Linked DNA regions of Homo sapiens: region 2 is linked to region 1. A link means that fine-mapping ties the variant in region 1 to the expression of a gene that starts in the linked region. Tissue or cell type: esophagus mucosa. Region 1 holds a variant in brackets; the other region holds the start of a gene. All regions are shown on one strand. Distances are between the middles of the regions. Region 1 overlaps TPRG1 (tumor protein p63 regulated 1). Region 2 holds the start of TPRG1 (tumor protein p63 regulated 1).

Evidence for each region. PIP is the estimated chance that this variant, and not a neighbour inherited with it, causes the effect. A credible set is the group of variants that fine-mapping cannot tell apart.
Region 2: it holds the start of TPRG1, and the variant in region 1 is the best candidate, but not a certain one, in a credible set for the expression of TPRG1 in esophagus mucosa (GTEx, PIP 0.64).

Annotation. Positions count from the first base shown.
Region 1 is chr3:189,203,053-189,207,452 of GRCh38, reverse strand. It overlaps TPRG1 (tumor protein p63 regulated 1), which reads right to left. Exons shown (of 6, transcript NM_198485.4): 2 at 1-77. The coding sequence starts at 68. Among named protein-coding and RNA genes, the nearest start is that of TPRG1, 33 kb to the right of the region's middle. The variant T/C (reference allele first, on the strand shown) is at 2,362.
Region 2 is chr3:189,169,930-189,174,329 of GRCh38, reverse strand. TPRG1 (tumor protein p63 regulated 1) reads right to left here and starts at 2,359. Exons shown (of 6, transcript NM_198485.4): 1 at 2,199-2,359.

The DNA of each region.
Region 1 (4,400 bases):
GGTTGGTCATCTCCCTCTTGCTTCAGAGACACAGCCTGGAATCCTTCAAAACTCCCAATTGTTGACATTTCTTCAGCCTAAACCAAGGGCAGAAAAATCTCATTGAAAAAATGTTACCTCTGTACCTGTGTCCTAGCTATGGCAAAACAGAATATGATGAGCAAACGGAATTCCTGAAACTTAAAAACATCCTTCATGTTAACTAAACAGAGGCATTGGTGGATACAGCTTCATAACACAGACTTCTAAATACCATCCACAATCCTGCAAGGTCATTTACCAGAGAAGTGAAGGAGAGACTCTCCGGACAGAGAAAAGGAGTTTAATCCCAGGAGACAGGAACCTGAACAAGAGAAGAGCTATATAAAATAATTACCAGACAATTTCTCTTCAAAATTGCATAGCATTTTTGGTTGAAAATTCACCAGACTGCAAGCTTATTTAAGAGTTAAAAGCAATGATAATGCATTTTCTTGTGTGCTTCTTGAGTCATAATAGAGCATAAGAGCACTTAGAACTGAACATGTTTTTAACTGAAAGATTCGAATTCTAAAAATTTATTCTAAGAAAATAATTAGACGAATACCCAAAGACTCACACACACGCACATGCATACACGCGTGCACACACACACACACACACACGGTTGTTCAGCTGGGCATGGTGACTCATGCCTGTAATCCCAGCATTCTAGGAGTCTGAGGCTGGTAGATCCCTTGTGCTCAGGAGTTTGAGACCAGCCTGGGCAACATGGCGAAACCCAGTCTCTACAAAAAATACAAAAATTAGCCAGACATGGCGGAATGTGCCCATAGTCTCAGCTACTCGGTAGGCTGAGGTGGGAGGTTCACCTGAGCACAGGAAGTGGAAGTTGCAGTGAGTCAAGATCATGCCACTGCACTCCAGGCTAGGCAACAGAGCAAGACCCTGTCTCAAAAAAAAAAAAAAAAAAGTTTGTTCATCACAACACCGCATCTAATAGAAAAATATACCAGGTTATATATAAAAGAAAAACACACCACTTTATATCTCATACAACACTGTATGTAAAAACATTAGACATTCATGCAACATTGAGTCTAACACCAAAAAATAAAATAAAATAAGTATCCATCAGTAAGAAGTTGACTAAATAAAATATGTTGCACTGTAAATACAATGTTATCACTGAAAGTGTGAGTGTATATTTTATCACAGAAAAATATCCAAAATATATTATAAATGGAAAAAAGTAAGTTAAAAAATATTATAAATAATATTATTCCAATTTGTTAAAATAATTTAGAAAGAAAGAGAAGAAAGATAAAGAAGGAAAGGAAAGGAAGAAGGAAAAAAGAGAAGAAAGAAAGAAGGAAAGAAAGAAAGAAAGAAAAAGAAAGAAAGAAAAAAGAAAGAAAGACAGAAGAAAGGAAGGAAGGAAGGAAGGAAGGAAGGAAGGAAATGTACCTGCATATGTATATACAGGCACACATGTATGGTATAACAGATTTAAAAATGTCTAAAAAGAGGGCCTGAAAAGAAGTAAAATAAAATATAACAATAGTTATCTCTAGATGACAGTGTTAGAGGTGATTTTTATTTTTGTTTGCATGTCTGTGGGTGCTAGTAATGATCACACATGGTTTAAAAATAAATAAAAATAATATCTTGGTTTCTATTTTGTACATATAAAGCAAAGCAAAATAAAATAGAAGACACATGTTAGCTTAGCCTGTGCACTCAAATCCTTTCAAGCTGACAGTGAGCATGTTATCAATGCTACCTAGAAAGTTTCATGTCCATTTTCACCATGAAAGTAGGAATGCCATATTATTCTCGGAGTCACCTCCTTGTTCTTAAACAAAAGTGGTTTTTAATCAATTTCCTTGGTTCTTGTGAAACAAAAGAAGGTGAGAAGAAGCCCCTATCCCCAGCAAGCTTCCGCTTTTGAAATTGGGATTAACTAGGCTATTCACAAGAGGTAAAAATAGTATGATCATATAATTTATTAGCTAATTTTGGGATATTTTGGCATGAAAAGGGTGCTATTGACAATTATGTCAGGATGATAGGAGTGAACTGGACAGTCTCAGGCAAATGTGGCTCTATATATATGTTCACCCTGAGGATTTGAATGTAGAAAACACAGCTAAGGTAACTCACAAGTGGAAAGCCTTATGCAGTTTGCTTTATATGATTTCTTAAGCTTTATATGTTTTCTTATCCGATCTTTCCAGCAATCCTAGAAGAGCTACTTAGTCTTTCCCCATCTTTCTGAGGAACACAGAGTAGATGGGAACCACCCAGGGTCACACTTGAATAGTCGTAGCAGCAAGTGTCCTCCCAACCATGCCCCCAGTATAGCACACCCAACATCTGCCT[T/C]ATGACAGAAAAGATGTCTCTGAGCTTTTAGGTGATCTTTTAAAGTTAGGTGTGCAAAAGGTAGAAATTGGTCTCTGAGAAAACAAGGAATGAAGAAGCAGGAGAAAGAGTGTATGTGTGTGTGTGTGTGTGTGTGTGTGTGTGAGAGAGAGAGAGAGACATAGAGACAGAGACAGAGAAAGAAAGACAGACAGAGGAGGCACTCTGACCTTCCTGTCCCTGGCAGCTACATGCTGTATTTATGCAGGTCTGCCACCTTTATCACAGTGGGTGTTGGAAGGAAATGCATTTCTAAAGTTCTCTATAACCTGTGAAGGAAGGTTTGTGCCATTGGGGAAGGAAAGCCTGCTTCTGTATTTGCGCACTCTGTGAACACACGCCTAACAACAGACATCTGCGAAAGGCTCCTGTGCCTGGAAAACAGAGGGAGGATTTAATTAGCACCACTTCCTCTCCCTCAGGCTGTCTTCTCTGGAAACACTTGGGGAAGCTCTGCGCTCTGAGACCAAGCTGTTTGAGATCCAGGAAAGAAGGAAACTCTCAGCTCCGTTTAAATTCTCACTGCCATAAATAGTGGGAAAGTTGAGCCCAGCTATCCCAATCCAGAGTAATTCCAGCTCTGTTCCAGTCACAGGAACATCTTAGAAGAACAATAAACAGAACTTCCTCAGCTTCCCCAACAGGAGAAGCGTGCTGCACATCTACACATTCCACTCTATTTCTCATGACCTCTGGCCCAGTTCATTCCCAATTCAATAGTAAGTGCTCTTCTATCCCTGCATAGGCTGTATTCCGTGAAATGCTAAAGGTACATTAATACCAGTAACAGATCAAAATCAAATGTTCCATTGCTTTCACATAGATCAATCATCCCCTGCAACAAACTCATTGGGAGCCTTTTAGAACTGAAAAGATTTGCTGTTCTGTAATATTTCCCAGTAAATTTATATCTTCATTTAGAGAGTAAAGGCAGCACAATTTCATAGGAAAACAAAGGGTCAAAACTTAGAAAAAGTAAATGATGTTCAGTTTTTTTTTTTTTTTTTTTTTTTTTGAGACAGTCTCGCTCTGTCACCAGGCTGAAGTGCAGTGGCACGATCTAGGCTCACTGCATTCTCCGCCTCCTGGGTTCATGCAATTCTTCTGCCTCAGCCTCCAGAGCAGCTGGGACTACAGGTGCTTGCCACCATGCCCAGCTAATTTTTTGTATTTTTGGTAGAGACAGAGTTTCACCATGTTGGCCAGGATGGTCTTGATCTCTGGACCTCGTGATCCACCCGCCTCAGTCTCCCAAAGTCCTGGGATTATAGGCATGAGCCACCTTGCCCAGCCAATGTTCATACTTTTTCATGGAATCTTCTCATTCCAGGGAATTCATGTAATAAAAACTACCTGAAAGAAGCAAAATGCTACAATATTAATTGCTTATTCTGAGTAGTAATGAAAAATGGAAAACCAACTAAACACCTAATGTTCAAGGAATGGCTAAGTATATCCAACTGGTATTACACAGGCATTCAAAATAACACGCAAACATTGCAGTAGCACGAGATTAACAGTTGTATCTTCTTGAGTGAAATAAAGCAGGAAACCAAAAATATTTTATCTTGGAATGTTCCACTGAATAATTTCACATTGGTAAAGACTAGAAAGAAAATAGTTATATTTATTGAAGTAGTGGATTGTGCGTCAATTTTTGCTCTTTTAAAAAAATTAAATGGCAGTAGTGCTGATTTTTTTAGCATTAAAAAAAAAATCCCAAATAAAGCCTTAAGGAAGTACTACCTTGCCTTTGATTAGACAATAGAAATACTATATTTCTCAGCTGCCAGAAAATTCAGAACTAAATTTAATATAGTATTATAGTAAATAACTTATTTCCAGATCCTGGTCTAAGTATAACTGCTTCCATTTATAAGGAACTTCATCTATCTCTCTGAGAATTTTTCTAATAATATTATAGAAGCATGTAGGGCATAAATTATAGCTTAAAAGTTATTGTTTAGTTCAACTTTTTTATTTGGCAAATATTGAAACAG
Region 2 (4,400 bases), 33 kb after region 1:
CTGAAAACAAGATATCTGGATTTTTTACAGGAAATTTCCTAGATATCAAATACTTTGGAACTAGTTTTATCTTGTTTAACATGGCAGCACAAACAAAGCACATCTGCATGCTGGATTCACCTGTGGCTGCTGCTCTGCAAGCTCTGGAGTAAATGAATTCTCGGACTTGACGCTGCCATTAGATTAAACAATGTTGAGTAAAATATCAACTATCACTTCAAGTTTTAAAAGGATCAAACTGAGTGGCACTTATTTAGGAAGATCCCAGAAAATATAAAAATCCAGACAGGCTGAAGAAAATGAAGATGCCACCACCTCTTGCCCATCTCCCCATCTTATACCTAAGGAGCAGCTCCAACATTTGGCCGAAGCAAATATTCCAGAAGAACCAAGTCAATAAAGAGAGAGGCTTCTCTGACAGATTTCCCTGCTCTAAAGGGCATGATACCATCTCCAGTAGATGCTAAGCAAAGGTCAAAGTGCCCTAAAACTCTTAATTGGAAGAAATCTTAAAGGACATCTAGTTACAGTCTCCAAAATGACATGGCTAATGCTTCTGCTTGGGACTCCTAGCACCATTCACTACATATTGTGGGCAATGAAAGAGTAAGAGACCCATATGTGACTTGCAGCTCCAATGATACTGGCTGTGTGACTTGTGCATATCACTTCATCTTTCTGGGCCTCAGTTTCTCTGTTTTGAATAAAGTAATCAATTAAACGATTTCTTCAGGATCCTTACAGCCAGAAAGACACCAAGAATATATAGAAGTTCCAGCCTGACCAACATGGTGAAACCCCGTCTCTACTAAAAATACAAAAACTAGCCAGGTGTGGTGGTGCATGCCTGTAATCCCAGCTACTCAGGAGGCTGAGGCAGGAGAATCGCTTGAACCCGGGAGGTGGAGGCTGCAGTGAGCCGAGATCGCGCCACTACCCTCCAGCCTGGGCAACAGAGCAAGGCTCTGTCTCAAAAAAAAAAAAAAAGAAGAAGAAAAGAAAGAAAAAGAATATATAGAAGTCTGCCAAAGATTATATAGCATTACAACCCAATGCATTTGTGGTGGCCCCAAGGGATGACTATCAGTACTGTCATAATAAACTCAAACAGACACACACACACATACACACATGCACACACACACAGAGGAAACATTTCCTTCCACAACTAAGAATGATATAACCTTTTGAGCATGAAAAGAAAAATGATAGCTAAAATTAGCATCTTAAAAAGTAAACTACATAATAACTGAAGATGAGATTTCCTTAAAACTGTAGAACAATGAGATACTATGATAGCTGTCACAAGAGAGGAAATTGCATGAGTGTATTTGAAAGGATTTGGGGGTGTTTTTCCCCCATTGAGATTTGCTTTTCTACATACCACAGTGTGACTGAAAAGCTAAAATATTTCCCCAGGGCCTGTATGATCTGTGCCTCACTACGCTGCCTCTGACATTTGGAGAGTGTCATTTAGCCCCGAATTAAAACCTGCTTATACAGAGATCTGGAGGATGTCTCAGGCGCCAAGTAGTCATCGCTGTCTCATTTGCCTATCACCTTTCAGTTTACAACTCCCCTTTACATACATGCCCTCGTTTGTTCTCTAAAAACAGCCCTGTTTGATGGGACCTATATATTATTATGAAATTTCCCTCAGATGAATTCAAAAATAACCCTCTCAAACTGCCTGCAAAGAAATAATCACCTTTTGTTTGCCATTTAACGGTTCAGAAAGGCTTTTCACTTCTTTTGGCTTTTGGGGATAAGGTATGACCTGCTGGGTTCTATAATAGAGGAAGAGGGAAGAAGGAATCAAATCTAATCTTGGCCTTAACCTGCTGATCCAATTGGAACAAATCACTTCAATTGACCAAGCTTCAGTTCACTAAGCCACCAAATGGAGAAAATTATACCCATCCTACTGCACTATAGGGCAGTTAAGATCAAAATCAATATATAGATAAGTATGTCAAGTGGCTTTATAGGCTAAAAAATGCTAGCCTACAAGCCTCATCAACCCTGGACAGTAAGGAAGAATAGGGAAATTTCACATGGTAATGCAAAACTACAAACCTAAACCAAACTGCAAGTCAGTGGGGGAGGTGACCAGAAACTCGGCTTAGGGGACAGAAGCAATTGGTTCATAGAGAAATAACCCATCTCTGCAGAACCAGTGACAAGCCACTTGATCTTACCTGACTAGGCTGGTCCTCAAGGCTCTTCTTTCTCTTTCTGCACAAAGGGGGCTAGACCACAGATAGTGGCCAGGAGAGGTGTGATTGGCTCAGATAAAGCCAGGCAAGACAGTGCCCTGTGCTGTGACCCCACTCAGTCTGAATCTCACTTCACCAAGTAGGCTGAGAGTTACACTGCCACCCTCAAATAGTCAAATGAAAGGACTGAGGATGTTTACAGGGTGGAACTCAACCCGTCAGAGGCAGAGAATTGGGTTTGTGGGTGGGGCCTTTCTTGTTCTGCAATGACACACCTTTACCTCCTGTCCTCTCCCTCAAGAAGTCCTGCATTTTTCTGCCAACTCCCTCTAATACACATCCAGCTGAGGGAGCAGGAGCAGCCTATCATCCATTCCTCCATGGCTTCTGTATGCCTCCAAGTAGTTATAATTAAGCTTAAGCCTGAGGCCTACACTCCTATCATTAATATTCTTTATGATGGCTTGATTTATTGGATATTTGTGATTTTAAGCATCACTACCACTCTTGTCAAAAATGTAGAAGACATGTAGAGCAGTGTATCTCTGAAAACAAACACATGTACACACAATCTCTGGTCAGTATTCCTATTAGGAAATGTGCCACATGATATTGTCTCTATGTAAGTGTGTATCCCCCTCCCTAGATGGGGGGCCCCTTGAGGGCAATGCTACATCTTATTCTCTCATATACTCCTCAAAACACCCAGCAGATAGTAGGTAATAAATAAATACACATTGAATTAATGATGATCCATTAATATCTATTTAGTGAATCCTGATCTGTCATTTAATGGCTTTGCAGCCTATAGCAAGTCATAATCTATCTTTCTGAGGTTTTTTAATTTTGGTCATCTGTAAGTTGAGAGTATCATTTCTCCTTCAGAAATGCAGATAGAACTTGAAAGGAAGCATATGAGAATAAACCTAGGATAAGATTTGACATAGCAACGGTGCTAAAAAAATGAAATAGAATCTTAATGAACACATTCTGAAACCTAAGCAAGTGTGTTCTACATACAGAGTTGGTATAAAATAAAGTATGAACTGCACAAGTAGGTGGATTGCTGAAAGAAAGGAGAGCACAGAAAACAAAATGCTGTTATGTGTATGATTGAATTTCAATCTTCTATCCTAAATTCTCTACTTCATTCAGCAGACTCTGGCCAAATCAGATTGTATTTGTTTGATGGCTGGAGGAACGGGTGTGCGCTGACAAAGTAAATTGGTTGAATTCCATTCTTTTAAAAGAAAAATAACTAATATTCACCCTTCAAAAAATGTTGTTTAAAGTTCCAGGAATACTGAGGTCATGAAGCGATTCCACAGGAAATGAAGTGCAAACTGGCAACTCGCCACTCAGGAGAGGTCACAATGAATAAACAGTCCTTTTACCTGCTTCCACCGTGTCGAGGACGTCATGTATACTAACTCAACAGTAGTTAACTGAGCAACTACCTTGAGCTTTCTCAGTTATCCACATAGACAAGGATATGAAAAGGAACCAAACACATTCTCTGGCATAAGGAGCTCAAGAAGATAAAATTTGTAAGTGAATTAGCATTGCACGATATAGAAGATGATGAGCACCACAGACAGGATCCTAACAAGTACTATGGTAATCCAGAGGAGGGAGCAACTCCAGGAAGGCTGCACAGCGGTGGAGGCGGCATTAGATCCGGGCTGTTAAGAAGAGCCAGGATTTCAACAAGCACAGATGGTAGAGTTGGGTATAAATGTTATTGGTGAGATGGACTCAGCCACAGTTACCTGATCAAACTGATTTATGCCCCCTCCCTAATACAGACCCCAGGCTGAAAAGAGAGTTTTACAGAACCGGTATCTAGGTCACACCACTTAGACGCCACAAAACTACAGGGCAATTAGAAATAATTGCGAGGCAAATACCGTTCCCACTCAGCTCCAAATGTCTTTATGACAGCTCAGGGTGGGGGCACAAAAGGCAGGAGGAGTGGAGACATGCTGGATCCCAGCCTGGTCTCTTAAGAGAAGGACTAAGCAATGCACTGCTGTTTGAAGTATGCTATTTTAAAGGGCAAGAAACTCTGTGAAAAGACATCAATTGTTCACACGGCATCCATCTAATTATCGTTAGGTTTCCAGCGGCCACTGAACACTCCTCCCAGCTCATGCTGAGCTCCGCCATACTGCAGCCTGCAGTAAC